Homo sapiens: one gene and its partner. The protein of the gene in region 1 purifies or fractionates together with the protein of each later gene. This does not show direct contact. Each region holds a gene or a part of one and is shown in the gene's direction. Other genes may lie near its edges.

Evidence for each region. The genes of interacting proteins can lie anywhere in the genome.
Region 2: the proteins of ABCB7 (region 1) and MTCH1 fractionate together in Homo sapiens (co-fractionation; one large-scale study listed by BioGRID). This does not show direct contact.

The regions. Positions count from the first base shown.
Region 1 is NC_000023.11:75,051,831-75,056,177, reverse strand, and holds part of ABCB7 (iron-sulfur clusters transporter ABCB7, mitochondrial), read left to right. Parts: intron 1-2,592; coding exon 2,593-2,808; 3' UTR 2,809-4,347. UniProt on the Homo sapiens protein: Exports glutathione-coordinated iron-sulfur clusters such as [2Fe-2S]-(GS)4 cluster from the mitochondria to the cytosol in an ATP-dependent manner allowing the assembly of the cytosolic iron-sulfur (Fe/S) cluster-containing proteins and participates in iron homeostasis.
Region 2 is NC_000006.12:36,979,459-36,984,333, reverse strand, and holds part of MTCH1 (mitochondrial carrier homolog 1), read left to right. Parts: intron 1-2,661; coding exon 2,662-2,746; intron 2,747-4,875.

The DNA.
Region 1 (4,347 bases):
ATTACCATAGGTTACTTACTAATTAGAGAAAAAATACCTTGAAAATAGAGAAATAGAGAAACTGGTAGATGTCACCTTAACCAATTGATCAAACCTAATATCAGTAATGGAGCAAATTGAACTCATGTACCTCCTGATGTAATGCACTGAAGATGTATTATCTTTTCTTTCTACCCAAAATGTTTAACTTGGGCTGGGCATGGTGGCTCATGCTGGTAATAACAGCACTTTGGGAGGCAGAGGTGGGAGGATTACCTGAGCCCAGAAGTTCCAGACCAGCCTGGGCAACATAGCAAGAGTCTATCTCAAAAAAAAAAAATTTAGCCTGAATCTAATAATCAGAAACAACTAGACAAATACAAATTGAAGGGCAGTCTTTTAAAAACAGGACTGGACATTTTAGAAATATCAATGTCACAAACACACACAGACTAGAACGAAGCTGTTATAAATTCAATGTGTTGATCCTGATTGGATCCTAGATGGAAAAAAAGTATAAAGGACATTATTGGTACAATTGATGAAGTTTGAATATGGACTGTATGTTAAATAAGAATATCGTATCACTGTTCAGTTTTTTGTGTGTGTTTTTTGGTTGTTTTTTTTTTTTTTTTTTTTTTTTTTGGTAGAGATGGGCGGGGGGGTGTCTCATCATGTTGCCCAGGCTAGTCTCAAACTCCTGGGCTCAAGCAATCCTCTCATCTCGGCCTCCCAAAGAACTGGGATTACAGGCATGAGCCACCATGGCCGGCCATTGTTAAATTTCCTGAGTGTGGTATAGTTGTATTTCAGTAATGTAGGAGAATGTCTTTGTTTTTAGGAGATACATGCTAATGAAATATTTAGGGGTGAAGTGTAATGATGTCTGCAGCTCATTCTCAGATTGTGTAGCAAAAAAATCATGTATATATAGAGAGAAGGTGAGGTGGAGAAAGCAAATGTAGGAAAAAATAATGGTTGCCAAACTAGGAGAAGCATATAAAGTTGTTCATTGTGTCACTCTTGAAATATTTCAAAATTTTAAAATGGATTTGGTGAATAAATAAATAAAGGAATGACCTGAGAACAAGATTTTTGAAATGAGAAATGTCTTTGCTGAAATAAAGTCAAGGAAATCTCCAAAAGAAAGAGAATATAGAGAAAAGATCAGAAAACAAGAGAATTTATCTAAAAAGTCCAACATCTGACTAGTGGTAGTTCTAGAGAGGCCAGAAACAGGGGAGGAAATTGTCAAATAGTAGGTTGGTACAAAAGTTATTGTGGTTTTTGCCGTAGAAAGTAATACCAAAAAAGTGTCTAGAACTTCAGAGCAAGAGTTTCTAGATTGAAAGGGCCTGAGTACCCACCACAATGAATGGAAAGGAAAAATAAAGCTGTACCAGGGCACATTATCATACAATTTCAGAATTGAGGATGTAGAAAACAACCTAAAAGCTCTGAAGGGAATATCTCTGGGTGGTGAGGTGAAATAAACTAATAGATTACTTAATGTAGTTGATTATGAGAAAAATACTGTTGAGAAGGGTTTTGTGATTGTGTAATAAACTTTGGAGAGATTTCCAATAGTGACACAGAAAACTAAGCAAATGAAAAAAAAAAACAAGGAAGTTACTAAGTCTAGGAGAATTAAAAGACTATATAAGAAAATAAATATAAAATCCTAGTACCTACTTAGCTAAGCAGGGAATACTTACAAAGTCGTAATAAGGTAAACACTGAATCAAAATTTGTGATGTAACTGATGTTATTAGGAGAGTATATGATGTAGTAGTGGGAATGTGGGATAGTATGAGTGTTGAATCTCCGTATTCCATAGTAGGAAGTTAGTAGATAATGCCAGAAATGAATAAATCAAGGAATAGTGGTATAACCTTACATGTAAATACTTAAATGTAGGCACAGACATTTCAGTTATTTTACTTAAGGGTTTATTGTAAAAGTCTTGTTACCAGGAATACCAGTAAAAGTGACAGAAGTCCTTTTGTCTCTCAGCATGGTTAACCGTAGCTATCAAGAAACAAATTAATTGTAGATGAGAGTTTGGAATCTATACCACCAAATCTTTGCAGTGTTAAGTTTAATAACCATTGTTAACAAAAATAGCCACTGGAAGAAGTAAACTTTTCATTTTCATTAAATCTTTTTTATTTTATGAAATCTTTTTTATTTCAAAGTACACATAAGGATTTAAGGATATTATTTTTAAATCTTTTAAGTCTCTGTAAATAACAGTGCTTTTGATTTGAATATTTGCTGATTACAGAAAATATCACCTGTTTACATTTTAACCTTCCCTTTCTTCCCTTCAAAATGACAAATGAAACATTACAATTTTATTTCCTTTAAATAAAATGGTGTTTATGGTATTAGAAATTTTATAGCCTTTTGTTTGTTCTGGCACTGGGTAGCTCAACAGGGAGGAAAGCATTCCTACCTAAATTTTTTTCACTTATACTGTGTATGAGGAATTGGGAGAAGTATTTTAATGAATGCAAATCCTTCAAACTCCTTAGTTAGAAAGTATTTGGTATTTTCAGTTATTATGCTAGTTAAATGACCTTTCTCCGTGTTTCTCATGTGTTTACTTTTTAGGGTAAGGTAGCCGAACGTGGTACCCACCATGGTTTGCTTGCTAACCCTCATAGTATCTATTCAGAAATGTGGCATACACAGAGCAGCCGTGTGCAGAACCATGATAACCCCAAATGGGAAGCAAAGAAAGAAAATATATCCAAAGAGGAGGAAAGAAAGAAACTACAAGAAGAAATTGTCAATAGTGTGAAAGGCTGTGGAAACTGTTCGTGCTAAGTCACATAAGACATTTTCTTTTTTTGTTGTTTTGGACTACATATTTGCACTGAAGCAGAATTGTTTTATTAAAAAAATCATACATTCCCATTTTCTATAATCCTTCTTTTAGATAAGATTTATTTAAAAGGGGATTTGAGTTTTACATCTTTCATAGTCTATTTAATGTGGCATCTGTATTTATCCCCAAATTATTTTCTTGTCACTGTCCTGGTTGTGCTCAATGCATACTTTTTGCTACCTGTTTGATATTACCACATTACCCTCTTGAGGCCTGACATTCATTTGATCTATAGCCAGATGAATCAGATTGGTTTCCCAATTTTTATAGTTTTTAAAACCTTTATGCTGACAATTTAGAGGGAAAGTGTCTGTTTCTTAACATGAAAGAAAAAGAGGATAGTGTAGGTTCATTGTTTCTTCTCCCTCCTTCGTCCAATTGAAATTGATGTGAAAATGAATTTATAAACTTTTAAAATTAGAATGTATCAGAAATAGACATGCATTTATAGTTTGATGTCTTACTTGATAGGTTACTTACTTTTTTCTTTTTTGTTTTGTTGTTTTTTGTTTTTTGTTGTTTTTTTTTTTTGAGACAGATTCTCATTCTGTCACCCAGGCTGGAGTTCAGTGGCACATCTCGGCTCTCTGCAACCTCTGTCTTCTGAGTTCAAGCAATTATCATGCCTTGGCCTCCCAAGTAGCTGGAATTACAGGCGCATGACACCACACCTGGCTAATTTTTCTGTTTTTAGTAGAGACAGGGTTTTGCCATGTTGGCCAGGCTGGTCTTGAACTCCTGACCTCACATGATCCGCCCACCTTGGCCTCCCAAAGTTCTGGGATTACAGGTGTGAGCCATCATGCCCAGCCTATACTTAGAATTTTTTTTTTTTTTTTTTTGAGACGGAGTCTCGCTCTTTCTCCCAGGCTGGAGTGCAGTGGCGCGATCTCGGCTCACTGCAAGCTCCGCCTCCTGGGTTCACGCCATTCTCCTGCCTCAGCCTCCTGAGTAGGTGGGACTACAGGCGCCCGCCACCATGCCTGGCTAATTTTTTTGTATTTTTAGTAGAGATGGGGCTTCACCGTGTTAGCCAGGATGGTCTCAATCTCCTGACCTCGTGATCTGCCCGCCTCGGCCTCCCAAAGTGCTGGGATTACAGGCTTGAGCCACCGCACCCGGCCGCTAGAATTTTTGAAGTATTTGCAACTATGTACTTTTTGAAGGAAAAAAACCTTCATTCTCATGTCGCTATGTAGAATATTCTTCATCATTAAGCAGCACCATAACTATCATCTAGTGATTAGAATTTTATTTTTCCATAAAAATATGAGGCACTGTTTTTGTTTTGGACAAAACTACACATTTTTCTTTAAAGATTTACAAACTCCTATGTAATTTGAAAGTTGCTATACTGGGAGTAATCTGAAAAGCTTAGAAAGTTCATTTCCTTTTATATTTCCATCTTAAATGTGCTGCTTTTTCTATTCGAAGTTTACAAAGAAACAAGTAAATGGGATGTCGTGCATGTATGCACA
Region 2 (4,875 bases), on another chromosome or scaffold:
TGATGGCGGAAGGTGTAGACCAGACTGGCATTTGGTTGTGATTTGGGAATGAGGGCTGTCTTACAGGGTTAAGATTGTATTTACAGCAGTTGAACTTGAAGTTTGGGAGATAAATTGGTGCTTTGGACCTGAGAAGTGAGGGTTCTGGAAACTGATGGAATGAGACTGAGTGAGGGCTAGGATTTTAGGGCACAGGTGGGAGAGTCTGTGGAGTGAAGGATACTGGAGCACAAGGGCTCAGTGTGAGGGAAATGAAGAAGTGGCTTCATCATTTGGATGATGGCAGATCTGGTTTGAAAGAACATTGAAATGAGGGTGGTTTGGGAAGGGAATGGGGGAATGAAGGACACCAAAGCGTGAGAAGAACTAGATGGTGGGCAGGTAAGGATGGATGAGCCCTGTTGAAGGACCAGAGGTGCCTGTCTGATTTGAACCCAGCTGGTGTTGAGTGTAACATATATTAGGGTAAGATCTTCAATGGGTATAGTTTGGGAATCAGAGTAATAACTTGCAGAAAGGCAAATTACTGGGAGTGGGGGTGTCAGGAGTGGAGTGACAGATTTGGGGATTGTCTAGATTAGGTGCGTAAGAATGCAGTGCCTTAGATTAGTGCATGTGGCTGTCAGGTTTGGGAGTCGGAGATTTTAAGATGACAGACTGTCCCTGCTGGTATCTGATATAGGGCCACAGCATTTGCCGTAGTTAGGACTGGGTTAACAGATTTGAGGTTGAAATTGGGTTTAATGACTTGGGAACAAATAATTAAAACTTGAAGGCAGGAGGAATGGGGGTGAGATACAGCCAGTGTGCCTATGATAACCCAATAGAAGTTAAGAAAATAGATTCAACAGATTTGGGAGCCATGGGGATATGGGATAACGTTACAAATTTAAGTATGAAATTGGGGTCAGTGGGACTCCCAAATAGTGTTGACTAAACTGGATAAGGACAGCAAAAGAGCAGTTGTGGCGATTTGGAGTGGAGGAATAAAGGAATACCACCTGTATTTAAGAGAACACAGATCAAGACAAAACTTAATTCAGAACAACCTTGGAGCTTTTAACCCAGAAGGGAAAAGGTCTAGAAGGGAAGTACTCACTGCCTGGGTCAGCTGACTCACCCCTTTCCTCCTTTGCTCCACTGGGTCAAAATTTTTTTCTTTTAAAGACAGTCCCCATCATAGAGGAGTTTTTAAATTTACAATCATTAATCTGTTAGGCATCTCAGAATCAGATCCATAGGAGATAGCCTGAACTTTGAAAAGCACTTGCTTGATAAAGGCAAAAGGGGACAGGGTTGATCCCAAAAAGCACTGGAAGCATACCTAATCCAGTTTACAAGGTAGCGCTTTCTAACTTGCCACTTCTACTGCCTCCCACAGCTGCAGGCCAAATCCTCTCCCACATGTCAGAGGAATCGCTCTGGTCCATGGGCCCAGCTGGCCTGCTTAGAGGGCACAGGGCTGGTATCCTGGCCCCTTGCCAAGGGAGGAAGGAGCCTTCTCACTCCCCACCTAGGTGCTGGTCTCCTTGACACCTTGCCTCCTCCCTGGCAGCAGGGGCTCTCACCCCTCGACAGAGACTTCCTGCTCCTCACATGGATATGGATGGTCCTTCACCCACCCGCGGGTTTAATAAATATTTCAGGCTGGGCGCAGTGGCTCATGCCTGTAATCCCAGCACTTTGGGAGGCCGAGGCGGGTGGATCACCTGAGGTCGGGAGTTCGAGACCAGCCTGACCAACATGGAGAAACCCCGTCTCTACTAAAAATACAAAAAATTTGCCGGGTATGGTGGCGGGTGCTTGTATTCCCAGCTACTTGGGAGGCTGGGGTAGGAGAATCACTTGAACCCGGGAGGTGGAGGAGGTGGAGGTTGCGGTGAGCTGAGAGCACGCCATTGCACTCCATCCTGGGCAACAAGAGTGAAACTCCATCTCAAAAAAAAAAATAAATAAATAAATATTTCAGATATAAGAAGCATCTGTACAGCAAGAACTATCATAGCCCTACAGAAATGAGGGGGTCGTTTTGTCACAGGGATGTAGGGTGATTGAGGTGAGAACGCAGCTAAGGATATGTTTGAGGAGTAGCTGGAATTTGAGGTAACAGTTTGCTAAGCCTGGGAATGGGAGGAATAGACATGGAGGTGTCTGCAGTAGATTTGGTAAGAAATTTGAGTTTGGGGTGCACTTTGGAATAGATGACTTAATGGCTGACCTGTCTGAGGTTTGGGTATGATGTATTTTCTTATTGCCACATTTGGAATTGAGGTTGGAATGAAGTTTTTCATCTGGAGATGAGAATAACTGAGATTTGTTCTGAGATGGGAGTAGGGTTTGCAGTACATACAAATGGAGGTTTCTCTACTGGGAATATTTGGGATTTGAATGTAAGAATGTTGGGGTGTGGGTGTGACTTGGATTGTGGTTGGACAGTGTCTGGGACCAGGCATTTCTGTTGATTGGGAGTTTACGTGCTGCCAATGGTTAGAGACACTGACGAGCTTTCTGGTATGCTTTGATGGGGAAAACATGAACAAGAGCCACATTAGAATTTGTGGGAGAAGAGTTAAGCAAAGGGGGCAAGAGGTGTGAGGAGAGGTGGTGAGGCTGAATCACCACGAGACTCTGAGCGTCCCTTTGTCTTTGTTAATTCTGAAGGTGGGTCATGAGCCGATGCCCCCCACCCTTGGGACCAATGTGCTGGGGAGGAAGGTCCTCTATCTGCCGAGCTTCTTCACCTACGGTGAGTGTGCCTCCCAAGCAGGAAAGCCCACACCAACAGAAAAGAGGCCTCAGGTGGGGAGCAGGACCAGCTGGCCCCGGGGAACTCACTGCGCAGCATGGCACGCAGTCGAGCTGGCATGGAGGAGGGGATCTAAGCGTGTACAGAGAGGACATGGTGTCGGGGTGCGAGCAGGTGAACCATACAGCTTTGGTCCAGCTCCTCTGCCTGTAGCTGCCAGCTGCCAGCCCAGACAGCAGGAGGGGACAGACACAGGTGCCTGAGAGAGGAGCCAATCTAGGACACTGGTCCCTATTATTTCTGCTGCCCCGGGTTGTGCCTGGAACATGCGTGGGGGTGATTTCCTTTTGTCCTGTGAGCAGCCTGGCCCTGCTACTCCAGCAGGAGGCCCGGGGGGTCCTCTTGAGTTTTTTTCTTTTATCCCACCTGGGTGTCTTGTTTCCCCTGCATTCCTCAGGCAGTGAGTGGTGCTCACTCACTCTGGTGTCTCCATCTGTTGGTTACAGAATGGTGTGCAGTGAATTGCAGCTTCACTTCTGTGTGCTGCGTGAGTTTGGGTGGGCCACTTACCTGCTGTGGCCTGGCTGCACCCCTTGTCTGCAAAGTAAGGTCAGCTTCTCCTGCCCAGGCCTTCCTGCAAGCTCCCCAACTGTCATCAAGAAGCCCACCTTGCTGCCTCTGCTGCCCATCACCTGGCCCACAGGTGCCGTCTGGCCAGGGCCTTTTCATGTTCACCCTCACTGTCCCTCTCCCAGTCCCTACCCTCACCAGATGACCATGATGAAGGCCTTCTTTAAATGTGCCCTTTTTCTCCGTGTTCACAGCTGGAGTTCCATTGCAGGCAAATCCCCTCCAGTTTCCTGCACCTCTGCTCTTACCTGTTTGGTTGTCTAGAATATTCTCCAGAATCTATCTTTCTGTTGAGTAACTTGGGGCTTGGCCTCTGTCTTACCTTTTCCATTTCACATGCTGTTGGCAGAATTGGGTGTCATATTTCTCTTCCAGTTTTGTCCCTGTGTTGTTGAGTGCAGAGTCTAGGGCCAGGTGGAATGTGTCATCTTGTGAGGAAATGTGTTTGTGTTGTTTTTTACTTAAAAATTGTCAGCGTAGTGGAGAGGGGAATGACAGAAGTAGGAAGGCACCCCACCATTGTGTAGTGAGGCAGTATACAGAGAGGTAAGGCAGCCGGGGCAGATGGCTGCGGCCCTGCACGGGGCTTTTTCTGGATCTGGTTGCACGTGCTGTGTTCTGAGAGGCGAGGTTAGAGCCCAGATCATCTCTATTCATGTGACACAGCCATTCCCAAAAGGACTTAGAGCAGAGGGAACTTGACCCCCATCTTAACTGTCTCTTTTGAGGATGAGCAGAGTTCTCAGGTGTGCCCCCAGCCTGGTTTATATAAATGTAGCTTTAATCTAGGTGTGAGCAGATGTCTGTTGGGGATCTCTGGACACCAGGCCTACTCTGGAGTCAGAGAGGGGACCCGCCATTTGGCTCTCTGGTACAGTGTGGACAGTGTCTGCTCCTCTACTTGTCATGGCTGAAAGTACTGCAGCTGTCATGACATTCTCTGGTGTAGAAGAAAGAACTTCCCAGAGGGTTTCCTGGCACTGCAGAAAGACCCAGAATGAGGGAGGCCCTGGGACCCACAGAGGCCCCTGCAGGCATTTCAGCACGCCTCCCTCCGCTCTCACTTGTTCCTCAGTTCTCTCAGAAATGGAGAGAAATGACGGTCCTTATTCCTTCTTTTTTTACAGGTGGGCAGATGGAAGAGGGTCGATGTTTTGCTCAGGATCACAAACAGAGGTCCTGAGGCTCCCTCTCCTCACTAGGATCCACCCTCCCCCAAAGCAAATTTTCCTTTTGCCTGTTCACTCTGTGAAGAGGGCTCCTTGCCAAGTCACCCAGCATCCCCTCCCCTCCTCCTCCTCTCCTTCCAGCCCACCCTCATCTCAGGCAATCACATATACAGGTAACAGGTGTTCTCAGCCTCATGAAAAACCCATGCTAGCTGTGACATTGAATTGCTGGGCTGGCAGACATCTGCGGAGGAGCAAAAGGCATATTTGCTTCTTCCTGCCTCTGCGCGGTGCCAGAGAGCTAAAGTCATGGTCTAACAGGGGGAGCAT